Linked DNA regions of Homo sapiens. The protein of the gene in region 1 interacts with the protein of each later gene in a pairwise test. Each region holds a gene or a part of one and is shown on either strand. Other genes may lie near its edges.

Region 1 (7,026 bases):
GATAGGCAAATATAAATTACTACTATGAGTATACAGGAGGAAGTCAATGTGAAAAATAAAAAGCTCAAGCCAATATTGTATGAAAAATGTTCACATGAAATCATTTGTGTCTACTTTGAAGGGCTTTAGTTTAGATATCTACATTTTAAGACAATAAGTAATAACTTTTTTTCCATCTCAACAGTGCCTCAGTTTTACTCTCAATATATGCATGTATTTCTAATATGTTATACTGGCTATGAAAGTGCATTCTAAAGGTATAATCTTAAAAAGCTAATTATTACTATTATGGTTTATAATTATTACATGTAGGCTGTATACATATAGAGTCTAAGTTCCATTCTTTTACATAGCTCCATATAAATAGACTTGTGTATTTTAAAGTGCACTCTGTATGTACTAAACTGATTCTCTTAGTGAAGGTCTTCCTGCCTGTCTGGATTCAGTAAGCTCCATAATATCACTGCTCAGACTTTAAAAGGCAAATAAGCATGTCTGAGCATTCAACAGATAAAGCAACTTCATCTAGTAGATTTAAAAGCATTCCACCAGTCTGTGCTTAAGAGCAAGCTAGAAACCAGATGTCAATAGTAATAAATTCATTAAATGATGAGATGTTTTACTAAAATTATAAAATCTGTATCTATAAATTTAGAATATGCATATGAAGTACATTTCTCTAAAGTAGGAATTAAGCTTAAAAGTATGTGTCAGCCTGGAATGGAGTGTTCGTATGGGAGTGATACTCTGATATTTCAGTGGTGAAGAAAAGAAAGTGACATGTCTCCACACTTTTCAGCATACAGGCATTGTATTGAACTAGAAAACACATTGAAAATGTGAGGTGGTTACTTGCTGCTATGCATGTTATGTTTATGTAACACTTCATAGGTTTCTAAAGAATTTTAAGTATGTAATCTTATCTCATTATTCCAAAAACTCTGTGAGACAGGCACAATATCTTAGAGAGTATGTGATAGACCCTAGATAGAACTAAGCCCTTGACTATTATTTTGTCCACTTAAATCTGGTCCAGAGTGCTTTCACTCACATCTATCTCAGCCTTTAGCATATAAAATGCTTTAATCAGAAATAATACACTCTGTCAAAGCAATAACAAACAACTTCAGAAGAAATACAGCACCACTTCTTATATATCATACTATTTTATAACCATATATTTTAACATATAGAACATTACATATTAAAACGTATTATTTTGAGGCCAGGCGCGGTGGCTCACACCTATAATCCCGGTGCTTTGGGAGGCCGAGGCTGATGGATTTCCTGAGGTTCAGAGTTCGAGACCAGCCTAGCCAATATGGTGAAACCCCATCTCTACTAAAAATACAAAAAATTAGCCTGGTGTGGTAGTGCACATCTGTAAACCCAAATACTAGGGAGGCTGAGGCAGGAGAATCGCTTGAACCAGGGAGGCAGAGGTTGTAGTGAGGCGAGATCATGCCACTGCACTCTAGCCTGAGCAACAGAATGAGACTCTGTCTCAAAAAAATTAATTAATTAATTAAAAATAAAATGTATTATTTTGACACTCAAAATTTAAAAAATATTACAAAGTAGGGCTACAATTATAATTAAGTAACTTCTAAAAATGATCAATAATAGATATGACCCTCTAAAAAAGAAATTACTAAAATAATGACTTTATCTTTTACATATATTCTGACATATAATTTATTATATTAATTTATTATATATTATATATTTATATTACATATTTTGCTAACAGTTGCAAAATAAATTCTCCAAACTATTCCCTTGCTCCCATTTTCCAAGTGAATAATAAATTTAAAAAATCAAGATTCCCTCTGCCATGGAAATCTATTTTTTCAGCCAAAATAATCAGAGGGAAGAGAATTACTTTTAATGTTTTTCACTATTAGTATGCCATGCTTAAATTTTTTCTGCAACATGTACTACAAAATAACACAATACAGTAAAACACAGGAATGCTTTGTCAACTTGGAAAAGTTGATACTTACCAAGGGGGACATTTTTCTTCTTCTTGACGGAGATACTTCACTTTCCTTATCTGCTTGTTGGCGCAACAAATCTTTGAGCTGATTAACTATAGAGCAAAAGCAGAGGGTTTATTAACCTTATTTGAGATCCATGGTTTCTTACCACCCATCCATCCTTCCAACTAATAAAAATTGCTGATATATTATGCATCAAGAATTCTGCTATCAACTGGGGATACAAGACCAACATAAAAAAAAAAAAAGAATTTCTACCCCTTAAGAGCTAAGAATCTAGCAAGGAAGAGAGAGACACTAATAGATATAAAATAAGTTTGTATGTAGACCTAAAGCTATGCACAGTGCTACAAGAAGAGGAAGAAGCTAATTGTGCTTGTTTTCACAGAGGAGATAACACTGCAAGGATAAACAGGAAGGAGTTCACCAAGCAGAAAAGGATAAGAAAAATTCCAGTTAGAAGTCACTGCACATGTCAAAGCATAAAAGCATAGAGAGGAGGTTATTATAACTAGAATATGAGTTGTGAGATGGATGATTAGCATGAGAAGTACACAAAGATGAGCCGAAGAGGCAGGTTAGAGCTATCTTAGGAAAACACTGTTATTTTATAACTAAGAATTTTGGACTTTAGCCTATAAGCATTGGGAAGTCAAAGGAAAACAAGATTAAGCGAGGGAATTAAATTATCTGATTTGTGTTTGAGGAATAACATCATAGCAGCAGAATGAAGAATGAATGGAGTTATTATTCTACGGAGTTTAAAAAATTCACTATGCATCATTCAGACTAGGATTGACATTCACACTCACCAGCATGGCTCTGTTGTAATTCGGGCCAGGCTGTCCTGGCGTCCTCATTTCCCACACTGGTGCTAAAAGAAAGATTTGGTGCATCTTCTCCAATAGTGACATCGCCTTCTTTCAGGGCACATGTCAGTTGGTGAATGCTTCTGCTGGCATGTTCTGCAAGAACAACCTGACGAAAGTTAGGACCCATGGAGTCTGGTTGACCAAACGGACACTTACTCAGGAAGGCAGTTTTTAAAGGTGAAATCATTATTTCTCGTACTTTATGGAAAAAACGCAGAGTTCTGTTTCTAGCTTGCTGAGGGATGTGCCAAAGATGGTGAGAGAAGATTAACTTCATGGTTTAGAGGTAGGACTTGATGATCTCTAAGGCCCCTACCACTGTAGCAGTTGATTTCACTACATATAGCACCACCGGCAAGGATTAAATGACAGAACTCTTCCCACCAGCTCCCATTAAACAATAACTTGCTAAGGGAAGTGCTCTCCTTCCCACCATGCCTGACTCCTTTACCAACTTGGAGACAGAGGGGGACGAAAGGAGCAGTGGGGAGGTGGGAAGAGCCAGCAAAAGGGACTGCGTCACACCCAGTTCCAACCTAGGGAAGCCTCATTGTCCCTGGGGACAGGAAATCCCTCCCCCACCAAGAGACATCCACATGTCTGGCCTAGTTTTGATCAAAATTTGCATAGCTGAAGTGCTTATAGTGGCAGCCCCGGCGGTACAGCTCTTTCTATATACTGCTGGCCAACCACACCTCATAGATTCTTGGTTAGTGCAACTGACCACCCCTAGAACACACAAAAACTGTCTAAAATGAAGTATTTTAAGGTATATTACTGTGATAGTTCATCTCTAAAAATAGCCTCCAAGGGGTTGCAGCGAGCCGAGATCGCACCACTGCACTCCAGCCTGGCAAGAGAGCGAGACTGTTTCAGAAAAAAAAAAAAAAAAAAATAGCCTCCAAGGAACCCAGCCTCATTCCCTTGTTCTCTTCTAATCTGAAACTGACTGGGCCTGTAATCTGCATTAACCAATAGAATGCAATAAAAGTTATACCATGTCACACCCAAGCCTCATCTTTAAAAGGACTGGCAGCTTCTGCTTCCTCTTGGAATGTTTGCTTTTGGGAGCCCTAAGCCGCTATGTAAGATATCTGACTACCCTGCTGGAGAGACCTGTGAAGAGCATACGTGGAGAGGAAGAGAGAGGCCCTGAGACCCCATGAAGAAAGAGAAAAGCCCTCCCCGCACTGCACCCCGCTGCCCCACTCTGACAGCCCAGTCCTCCAGAGGACTCCAGCACCAGAGGCACGAAGAAAGAGAAAAGCCCTCCCCGCGCTGCACCCCGCTGCCCCACTCTGACAGCCCAGTCCTCCAGAGGACTCCAGCACCAGAGGCCCTCTAACTGCAATGGCACGAAAGAGACCTGATTCATTACCAACCATGTATAAAAATACATTTATAAACATATATTCTGTAGGACCTTGAAAAGCAGTTTCCATTTTGTCCAAGTGCACTGATTTCAAAGTTTGGAACAGAAACAAAAGCAATGTTAGTACTTAATAGAAAAAAAAAGTCTCTGTTATACAATATCTAATACAGTTTCTTTACTTGCAGCAACTCATTTTCTACTTTGATAAAAGAAAACATGTATTTCAGGTCAGGGTTCGACAATGAAATTCTATTACTCAACTATACAAGAGACACAGTTAATTTATCACCATATTTTTCTCCATACCAATCCTATGTCCACACAGATCTTTCTTTGAAATGAATTTGGCGCTGATTACTAATGAAAACTGGCCTCCTCTGACTCATCATGAGTTTAAGGAAGTTCAGATAAGACGCATTCCTGGTTTTGGGAATATATGAAACTGTGATAGTTTTACAATAACTTAGTATTAGAAAATAGAATAGAAAAGCGATTTGGTCATGGAAAAGGAAAATCAAAGTGTTACATGATAAGCAATTCAGTTCATGGAGCTTTAGATTTATGCCCTTAAATCCACGAATAAAACACTTATCTTTATTGAATCTATTAGAAAGGAACGAGACAGTTTGACTAACATAAAAATGTATTCCAGGTAAAAGCATTGCACCGTTGGTGATTACGGAAGAAACAGGAGTGTGGTGTGACCATGAGGAAGCAAAAGAAAATGAGGAACTATACAACCATGAAGCAAACGCTTAGTCTCAGAGATCAGAGGCTTAAAGAAAAGGATAGATTAAAACCTAAAGAGAAAGAAAAGAAGGATCCCAGCGCGTTAAAGGAAAGAGAAGTTCCGCAACACCTTTCCTGATTATTTTGCCAATATAATACACAGCTGGGCCCACCTTACCACATCCTCGTTGATACCAACTTTATCAACTTTTCCATAAAAGCCAAACTGGACTTAGTGCAGTCAATGATGGGCTGTCTGCATGTCAAGTGTATCCCTTGTATAACTGATTGTGTAATGGCTGAAATTGAGAAATTGGGGCAGAAGTATTGAGTGGCTCTAAGGATCGCCAAGGATCCAAGATTTGAACAATTACCATGTACACACACAGGAACCTATGCACATGACTGCTTAGTACAGAGAGTAACTCAGCCTAAGTGTGTGTAAGTGTTACATTGTGCCCACAGTTGACCGGGACTTTTTTTTTTTTTTTCTTGAGAGGGAGTTTGGCTCTTGTCGCCCAGGCTGGAGTGCGATGGCGCAATCTCGGCTCACCGCACCCTCCGCCTCTCGGGTTCAAGCGATTCTCCTGCCTCAGCCTCCCCAATAGCTGGGATTACAGGTACCTGTCACCACGCCCGGCTAATTCTGTATTTTTTTTTAGTAGAGACGGGGTTTCTCCACGTTGGTCAGGCTGGTCTCAAACTCCCGACCTCAGGTGAAATCCGCCCGTCTCAGCCTCCAAAAGTCTTGGGATTACAGGCGTAAGCCACCACGCCCAGTGACCGGGACCTTAAAAGAAGAATCCATAAGATTCCTGGAATTCCTATCATGTATATTTCTTTTTTTTTTTTTTAAGACGGAGTCTCGCTCTGTCGCCCAGGCTGCAGTGTAGTGGTGCGATCTTCACTCACTACAACCTCCGCCTCTCAGGTTCACGCCATTCTCCTGCCTCAGCCTCCCGAGAAACTGGGACTACAGTTACACGCCACCACGCGCAGCTAATTTTTGTACTTTTAGTACAGACAGGGTTTCACCGTGTTAGCGAGGATGGTCTCGATCTCCTGACTTTGTGATCCGCCTGCCTCGGCCTCCCAAAGTGCTGGGGTTACAAGCGTGAGCCACCGCGCCCAGCATTTTTTTTTTTTTTTTTTTGAGACGAAGTTGCACTCTTGTTGCCCAGGCTGGAGTGCAAGTAGTGCAGTCTCAGCTCACTGTGGCTCTGCCTCCAGGGTTCAGATGGTTCTCCTTCCTCAGCCTCCTGAGTGGCTGGGATTGCAGGCATGTGCCACAGTGCCCAGCTAATTTCTTTTTTTTTTTTTGTATTTATAATAGAGACAAATACTTTTGTATTTTTAGTACAGAAAAATACACCTCGGCCTCCCAAAGTGCTGGGATTGCAGGCATGAGCCACCGTGCCTGGCCTACTCACTTTTTGATGCTGTTTTGAAATTGATATTTTGTCTCATAAAAATTTTAGTCCAGGCACAGTGGCTCATGTCTGTGGTCCTGGGACTTTGGGAGGCTAAGGTGGGTGGATCACCTGAGGTCAAGAGTTCAAGACCAGCCTGAACAACGTGACAAAACCCCATCTGTACTAAAAATACAAAAAAGGTTGGCAGGTTGTGGTGTTGTGTGCCTGTGGTCCTGGCTGCTGGGGAGGCTGAGGCAACAGAGTTGCTTGAAGCCGGGGGGCGGAGGTTGCAGTGAGCCGAGATCACACCACTGCATTCCAGGCTGGGTGACAGAGTGAGACTGTCTCATAAAAAAAAAAAAAGAAAAAGAAAAAAAAATTCAGTGATGGTCAAAGGGTACAAAATCTCAGACAGGAAGAATATGTTTTATACTTTTTTTGAGTTCTATTGTACAGTGTGGTGCATATACTTAATAATGGAGTATTACACATTTCAAAATTGATGTTCTCATCACAGAAATGTATTGGAAGTATTGGATATGTTAACTAGCTTTATTTAATTATTCCACATTGTATCCACAATTTATGACATCACTTTGTAACCCATAAATTTATACAATTATAAATTGTCAATTTACAATAAA
Region 2 (7,026 bases), on another chromosome or scaffold:
ACACCCAGCTCCCAGACCTTGGTCTCTGAGACCACTCTCCAAGAAAAAGAACCGGGGCTTCTTGAAGAAATGGCTGATTCTAGGACTGGAGGAGGAAATAGACAAGATGAGGCTGGAGCAGTTTATAGGGCCAGAAATAAGGACGTGCTCAGAAGACAAAGTGATGGGCAATGACACAGGGACCCAGGAGCCACCTGAAAGTTCCCAGTGGCCAAAGCTGTGACAATGAGAGCAACAAAATAAGCAAACTAGCATTGAATTATAACTTGAAGTGTAAAATAAATATCCACGAGTCCATTATAATAAATGATTGAAAAAATTAATAAGTGGGGCCAGGTGCAGTGGCTCATGCCTGTAATCCCAGCACTTTGGGAAGCCAAGGCAGGAGGATCACTTGAGGTCAGGAGTTCGAGACCAGCCTGGCCAACATGGTGAAACCCCATCTCTACTGAAATACAAAAATTAGTCAGGTGTGGTGGCACACGCCTGTAGTTCTAGCTACTCAGGAGGCTGAGATAGGAAAATCGCTTGAACCCGGGAGGCGGAGATTGCAGTGAGCCAAGATTATGCCACTGCACTGCAGCCTGGGCGACAGCGTGAGACACTGTCTCAAAAAAAAAAAAAAATTATAAATGAGGGTGAACAGACAAATCTCCTGTGTAGAAGAATTCCAAATAACTTCTATAGATGCTCTTCTCTAAAGGAGGGGGAGCAAAACTCCCCACCCCTTCCATGTGGGCTGAACAAAGCGACTTCCTTCCAGAGAGCACAGGGGATGGGCGACCTCACAGTGGAGAAGCCTGACCCTCCACCTTGGCCAGGGGACCAAGGCCAGCAGCATCACCAGTGAGAGGTCACATGGACAGTGTGGACCCCAGACAGGATGGGGTGAGAAGAGTACTTTACCTCTGTGGCCTTCCTCCTAGAACCCATCCACCACCCAGTCTGATCACGAGAAAAATATCAGGCAAGGGCCAACAGGGGGCCATTCTGTAAAATCCCTGACCAGCTCTCCCCAAAACTCGAAGGTCATCAAAAACAAGGAGAGTCTGAGAAACTCACAGCCCAAACAAGCCTGAGACCCACAGCCCAAAAATCATGTGGGATCCTGGGACAGAAAAGAAAAACTGCAAAAATACAAATCAAGTGTGGACTTTAGTCAGTGATTTACCAATAATGACTTGTTAATTGTACACGTCCCATCATAATGTAAGATATTCAAATAGCAGAGACTGGGTGCGGTACAGGGGAACACCCTGCACTTTCCAATTTTTCTATAAATTTAAAACTATACTAACATAAAAGGTTTATTTTTAAAAATCGTACAGTCACGCCGGAGGCTCACGCCTGTAAGCCCAGCACTTTGGGAGGCCAAGGCGGGCGGATTCACTTGAGGTCAGTAGTTTGAGACCAGCCTGGCCAACATGGTGAAATCCTGTCTCTACTAAAAATACAAAACTTAGCCCGGCATGGTGGCAGGCGCCTGTAATCCCAGCTACTCGGGAGGCTGAGGCAGGAGAATCACTTGAACCCAGGAGACAGAGATTGCGGTGAGGTGAAATCACACCATTGCACTCCAGCCTAGGTGACAGGAGTGAAACTTCATCTCAAAAAAGAAAAAGAAAAAAATAAAATAAAAAGTAAAAAGTAAACTAAAAGGTAGTACAGTCAGATATCTTTTGTTACATATGGATCCTGTAAAGGCCAAAACTGTGCTGCACGTGTGCCAACCAGAGCACGAGGGAGCAGGCCCCGTGGCACCCTGTGATGCGAGTGTGACTTAGGGCAATGATCTTTACGGACAGCAACTTGGCAATGCCTATCAAAAAAAAAAATTTTTTTTGAGACGGAATCTCGCTCTGTCGCCCAGGGTGGAGTGCAGTGGCGCGATCTCGGCTCACTGCAAGTTCCGCCTCCTGGGTTCACGCCATTCTCCTGCCTCAGCCTCCCGAGTAGCCGCGACTACAGGTGCCTGCCACCACGCCCGGCTAATTTTTTTTTTTGTATTTTTAGTAGAGATGGGGTTTCACCGTGTTAGCCAGGATGGTCTCAATCTCCTGGCCTCGTGATCTGCTTGCCTCAACCTCCCAAAGTGCTGGGATTACAGGCATGAGCCACCGCGCCTGGCCAAAAATTTACAATTTAGTTTTAATTTTAATTTTAAAAGATAGAGTCTCACTCTGTTGCCCAGGCTGGAGAGCAGTGGCATGATCATAGCTCACTGCAGCCTCAAACTTTCTGGGTTCAAGCCATCCTCCTGCCCCAGCCTCCCATGTAGCTGGGACTACAGGCATGCACCACCACACTCGGCTAATTTTTTAATTTTTTTGTAGAGACAGGGGTCTCACTATGTTGCCCAGGCTGGTCTCAAACTCCTGGCCTCAAGTGATCCTCCCACCGCAGCCACGCAAAGTGCTGGGATTACAGATATTGGCCACCACTCCCGGCCCCCTTTCAAATTTTTTTATTTATTTAATTTTTTTTGAAATGGAGTCTCGCTGTCACCCAGGCTAGAGTGTGGTGGTGCGATCTTGGCTCACTGCAACCTCCAGCTTCCGGGTTAAATCAGTTCTCCTGCCTTAGCTTCCTGTGTAGCTGGCATTACAGGTGCCTGCCACCACGTCCAGCTATTTTTTCTATTTTTAGTAGAGACGAGGTTTCACCGTGTTGGCCAGGCTGGTCTCGAACTCCTGACCTCAAGCAATCTGCCCACCTCGGCGTCCCAAAGTGCTGGGATTACAGGCACGGGCCACCGCACCTGGCCCCCCTTTCAAAATTTTAAATGGACTTATGCTCTGACCCAGTAGTTATCCTTTAGGATTTATTCTACAGGCGTATTTACATGTATGCAAAATGGCAAAGACACAGGGTATTTGCTGTGCCACTCTTGGTACTATGATAAGGAAAATCCAGAGGAGCACTGGGTGAAGTTCTGGTGCATCATCTGATGAACTATTGTCAGCTGCTACAAAACAATGTAAGGAAAGCGGGAGCAGGGTCAGGTGCAGCGGCCCACACCCGTAATCCCAGCACTTTGGGAGGCCGAGGTGGGAGGATCGCTTCAGCCCAGGAGTTAAGGACCAGCAACCTAGTGAGACCCCTGTCCCTACAAAAAAATTAAAAATTAGTAGGCTGGGTGTGGTGGCTCACACCTGTAATCCCAGCACTTCGGGAGGCTGAGGCAGGAGGATCACCTGAGGTCAAGAGTTCAAGACCAGCCTGACCAACATGGCGAAACCCCGTCGCTACTAAAAATACAAAATTAGCCGGGCATGGTGGTGCATGCCTGTAATCCCAGCTTCTTGGGAGGCAGAGGCAGGAGAATCCCTTGAACCCGGGAGGCAGAGGCTGCAGTGAGCCGAGATCTCACAAATGCACTCCAGCCTGGGCAAAAAGAGCAAAAGTCTGTCTCAAAAGAAAAAAAAAATTAAAAATTAGCTGGGCAGGGTGGTGAGCACCTGTAATCCATGCTACTCAGGATGCTGAGGTAAGAGGATCACTTGTGTCCGGGAGGTGGAGGCTGCAGTAAGCTGTGGTTTCTCCACTGCACTCCAGCCTGGGCAACAGAGCAAGACCCCGTCTTAAAAAGAAAAAGAAAAGAGAATGCAGGAGCCCCACGCAGCTGACGGATACGGCACTTGTTCCAACACATCTCCAGCATCACTGATGCCTGTGTGCCCAGAGTAAGTGTGGGTGCAGGAGAAACAGAACAGTGGCCGCCTAGGAGAGGCCCGCAAGGTCGGGCAGGACAGGCTCACTGCTCAATGAGCCCCCTTTTCCCAAATGGTGGGTGTGAATGGCCTATTCAAAACACATGGTAGGAATTTTGAAATCATCCCCCAAAATGGCACCAGTCATTGCATCAGGGCCATGGGATTATGGGTGCCCTTCATCCTGTCTCCATTTTCCTGGGGTCAGTTTCGCAGCCTCCAAGAGGAAGATAAGGGATGTCAGGGGAGGGATGAAGGGGCTGCCACTCACTGACGGACACCACGGTGGAAAGGCACCACTCATGCTCAGATGGTAAATCAAGTCATGGACTAAAAACCCTAAACTCCACCTGCAAGAAGGAGGCAACATCGCCCAGGGAGGGGCAGGTGGCCCCCATGGCCATGACACATATGCACAGTGATGTCTGTTCCCCAGTGAGCTTGTGCTCTTGGGATTTAAAGACCTCTTTTCTTTAAGGGGAAGGGAACCAGAGTGAATAATGATCTAGGGGGCTAGAGGATCAGGTGGGCACACAGCTGGGGCAAGGAAGAGGGACCCTCTACAGTCTGGCACCGACATCTCTTGAGCCAGAAGACCAGCAGGAACTGCAGTTACATCCTGGATGGGGAATCCCGGGACAGCAGGCCGTGGACGCAGGAAGATCTTTAGAGACAAGGGGTAGAGTGGAAACCCCAGGCCAATGGCCACCGAGAAGGTCTCCGAGCCAGGGGACAGCACCCCACCCCACCCACAAACACCAGGAGGAAGAGAATCACGTGCCGCCTTGTACAGGTGTGAAGCCATGCCTGGCCAAAACAAATGCTCTCCAGGAATCCCGATGAGACTGAGTGGTAGCAGGGCAGGTGGCCGAGAGGATGGGGACCGGGCACAACAGAAACCCCTGAGGTCACGTCACACACTGGCGGGGGTTCCTCTTCCACCAGCAGTTCCCGAGCTCCCACCATGGGCACAACAGAAGGCAGACAGGCATGCAGGGGTGGGGCCGTCTCGGATCGAGCGAGGGCCTCAAAGAATTGAAGTGAACAGCTGGAACATTCCATGAACGAGGGGACTGTTAGCAGTCGCCACTCAACACTGCGGGAGCGGGCAATGGTACCAGCCGAGGAAAGGAGGGATCGATATGAGTAGCGCTCGCTGTGGCTTTGAACCTCTACTCAGCAACAGAACATTTCCCAGCAGAAAGGCTGGGAGTGTGGTTAGGTGCCTGGGTCGGCCGCGGATAGAGCCTGGCCATGCCGCCGAAAGACCATCTACTAGAAAGCCCGGAAACTTTTACAACAGTCTCCACACAACAAGAGAGCTGCAATTTCTTTCTTTCTCCTTCTCCCTCTCCCTCTCCCTCCCCCTCCCCCTCCCTCTTTCTTTCTTTCTTTCTTTTTTTGAGACAGAGTCTTGCTCTTTCGCCCAGGCTGGAGTACAGTGGCATGATCTCGGCTCACTGCAGCCTCCTCCGCCCGGGTTCAAGCAACTCTCCTGTCTCAGCCTCCTGAGTAGCTGGGATTAAGGGTGCGCGCCACCACGCCCGGCTAATTTTTGCATTTTCAGTAGAGGCAGGGTTTCACTATGTTGGCCAGGCTGGTATTGAACTCCTGACCTCAGGTGATCCACCCGCCTCAACCTCCCAAAGTGCTGGGATCACGGGCGTGAGCCACCTCGCCCAGCCCAGATCTGCGATTTCGAGTGCGTCTTCCCCGCCCCATGTGCCATGAACCTAGGGCTTTAGAAACAGCGGGAGGGGCCAAGGCAGGTGGGCGAGGGGGTCAGTGACGCAGGAGCAGGGCTGCGGACAGGAGAGGCAGCAGGCTCAGAGACGGCTCTAGCCCAAGCTGGTTACCCCTCTGCTAAAACAGTGCAGCATATTTTTATTTTCACAGCTTACGTCTGTAAATGCCTAGAGGCGTACCACATCTTTAGACAACCTGCCGGCCACAATGACACATCAGGACATCCCGGGTCCCCGCCCTGCTGGCCCAGGCTTTGGGAACCTGCTTGGTCCAAGGGTCCGCTACTGGCCCGGCTGCCCTTACCCCGGAACTCGGCTAGCCGTCTGGCGGGCCACACCCTGCCCACCTGGGGGTGCTTCTAGGGCAGACACAGGAATAACTTTTTCAAGGAGAAGGGGGAGGTCCAAGCCTTTTATTCACAGTGGAACCCTGGCCTGGGCCTGCCAGGGGTTCCTGTGGGAAGCCTCAACTGCCCTCCAGACCCCTTCTCTCTGCCCTGCTATGTTGCCTGGCACGGACCTCAGGCAGGGAGCCCCAGACCGGCTGCCGCATGGAAGCCAAGGCCCCCAGGCCCTTGCTATTCGGAAGCTCAGGCCAGACTCTGGTCAGGCTCTGCCCCAACCCCCACAGAGCGGCTCGATTCCTCCCTTGCCCCAAAGACTGGGCCTGGCAGACACCAACTCAGGGTGCAGCAGGCCCGGCCTGCCTTTCACAGCCCCCATCTGGGAACCACCCACCCTCCTCCCTACTCCCAGAGGTGGGCAGGAAAGGCAGCTCTCACCCCGAAGCTCCCACGGCTGTCCTGCTGCCCACACACCCACACACCCGTCTAGGTTTCTCCAAGGCCACCAGGAGCTCATCACCCCTCCCCACAGGTCAACCCCATTTCTTTCTTTTTTTTTTTTTTTTGAGATGGCATCTCACTCTGTCGCCAGGCTGGAGTGCAACGGCACGATCTCGGCTCACCGCAACCTCTGCCTCCTGGGTTCGAGCAAATCTCCTGCCTCAGCCTCCCGAGTAGCTAGGATTACAGGCATGCACCACCATGCCCGGCTAATTTTTTTTTGTATCTTTAGTAGAGACGGAGTTTCACCATGTTGGTCAGGCTGGTCTTGAACTGCTGACCTCAGATGACCCGCCTGCCTCGGCCTCCCAAAGTGCTGAGATTACAGGCGTGAGCCACCGAGCCCAGCCAACCCCATTTCCTGAGGATTCAAACAAATCCAAAGGGCGGTGGCACAGGAGGCCTGGGGCTGTTGCTGAAAGAATCCAAGCTCTGGCTTGACTTTCTAGTGATTCAGCACCCACGCCTGTAAGACTCAAGTCCTACCTGCCTCCTGGAACAGCCACGAGGATCCAGCATGTCCAGATGTGAGGCACTTGTTCACCTGTGGAGCTGGACCCAGGGGTCAGATGCCAACTGAACAACAGCCCTCCAGGAGGCAGGGGCCCGGACTCCTAGGCCACAGTACTCACCAGCACCTTCCTCTTCTGCTCGCTGCCTGTGACCACGGAGACAGAGCGGACGATGGGCTTGGTGGTGGCGGCACTGCCAGGACGCCGGGACACA

What was found. Proteins that work in one complex are often made in the same cells at the same time.
Region 2: the proteins of SDCCAG8 (region 1) and CEP131 interact in binary tests that used the Homo sapiens proteins (3 or more experiments, as listed by UniProt).

The regions. Positions count from the first base shown.
Region 1 is NC_000001.11:243,266,041-243,273,066, reverse strand, and holds part of SDCCAG8 (serologically defined colon cancer antigen 8), read right to left. Parts: intron 5,447-7,026; exon of another isoform or gene 4,894-5,446; intron 2,976-4,893; exon of another isoform or gene 2,963-2,975; coding exon 2,810-2,962; intron 2,090-2,809; coding exon 2,004-2,089; intron 1-2,003. UniProt on the Homo sapiens protein: Plays a role in the establishment of cell polarity and epithelial lumen formation. Also plays an essential role in ciliogenesis and subsequent Hedgehog signaling pathway that requires the presence of intact primary cilia for pathway activation.
Region 2 is NC_000017.11:81,212,948-81,219,973, forward strand, and holds part of CEP131 (centrosomal protein of 131 kDa), read right to left. Parts: coding exon 6,933-7,026; intron 1-6,932. UniProt on the Homo sapiens protein: Component of centriolar satellites contributing to the building of a complex and dynamic network required to regulate cilia/flagellum formation.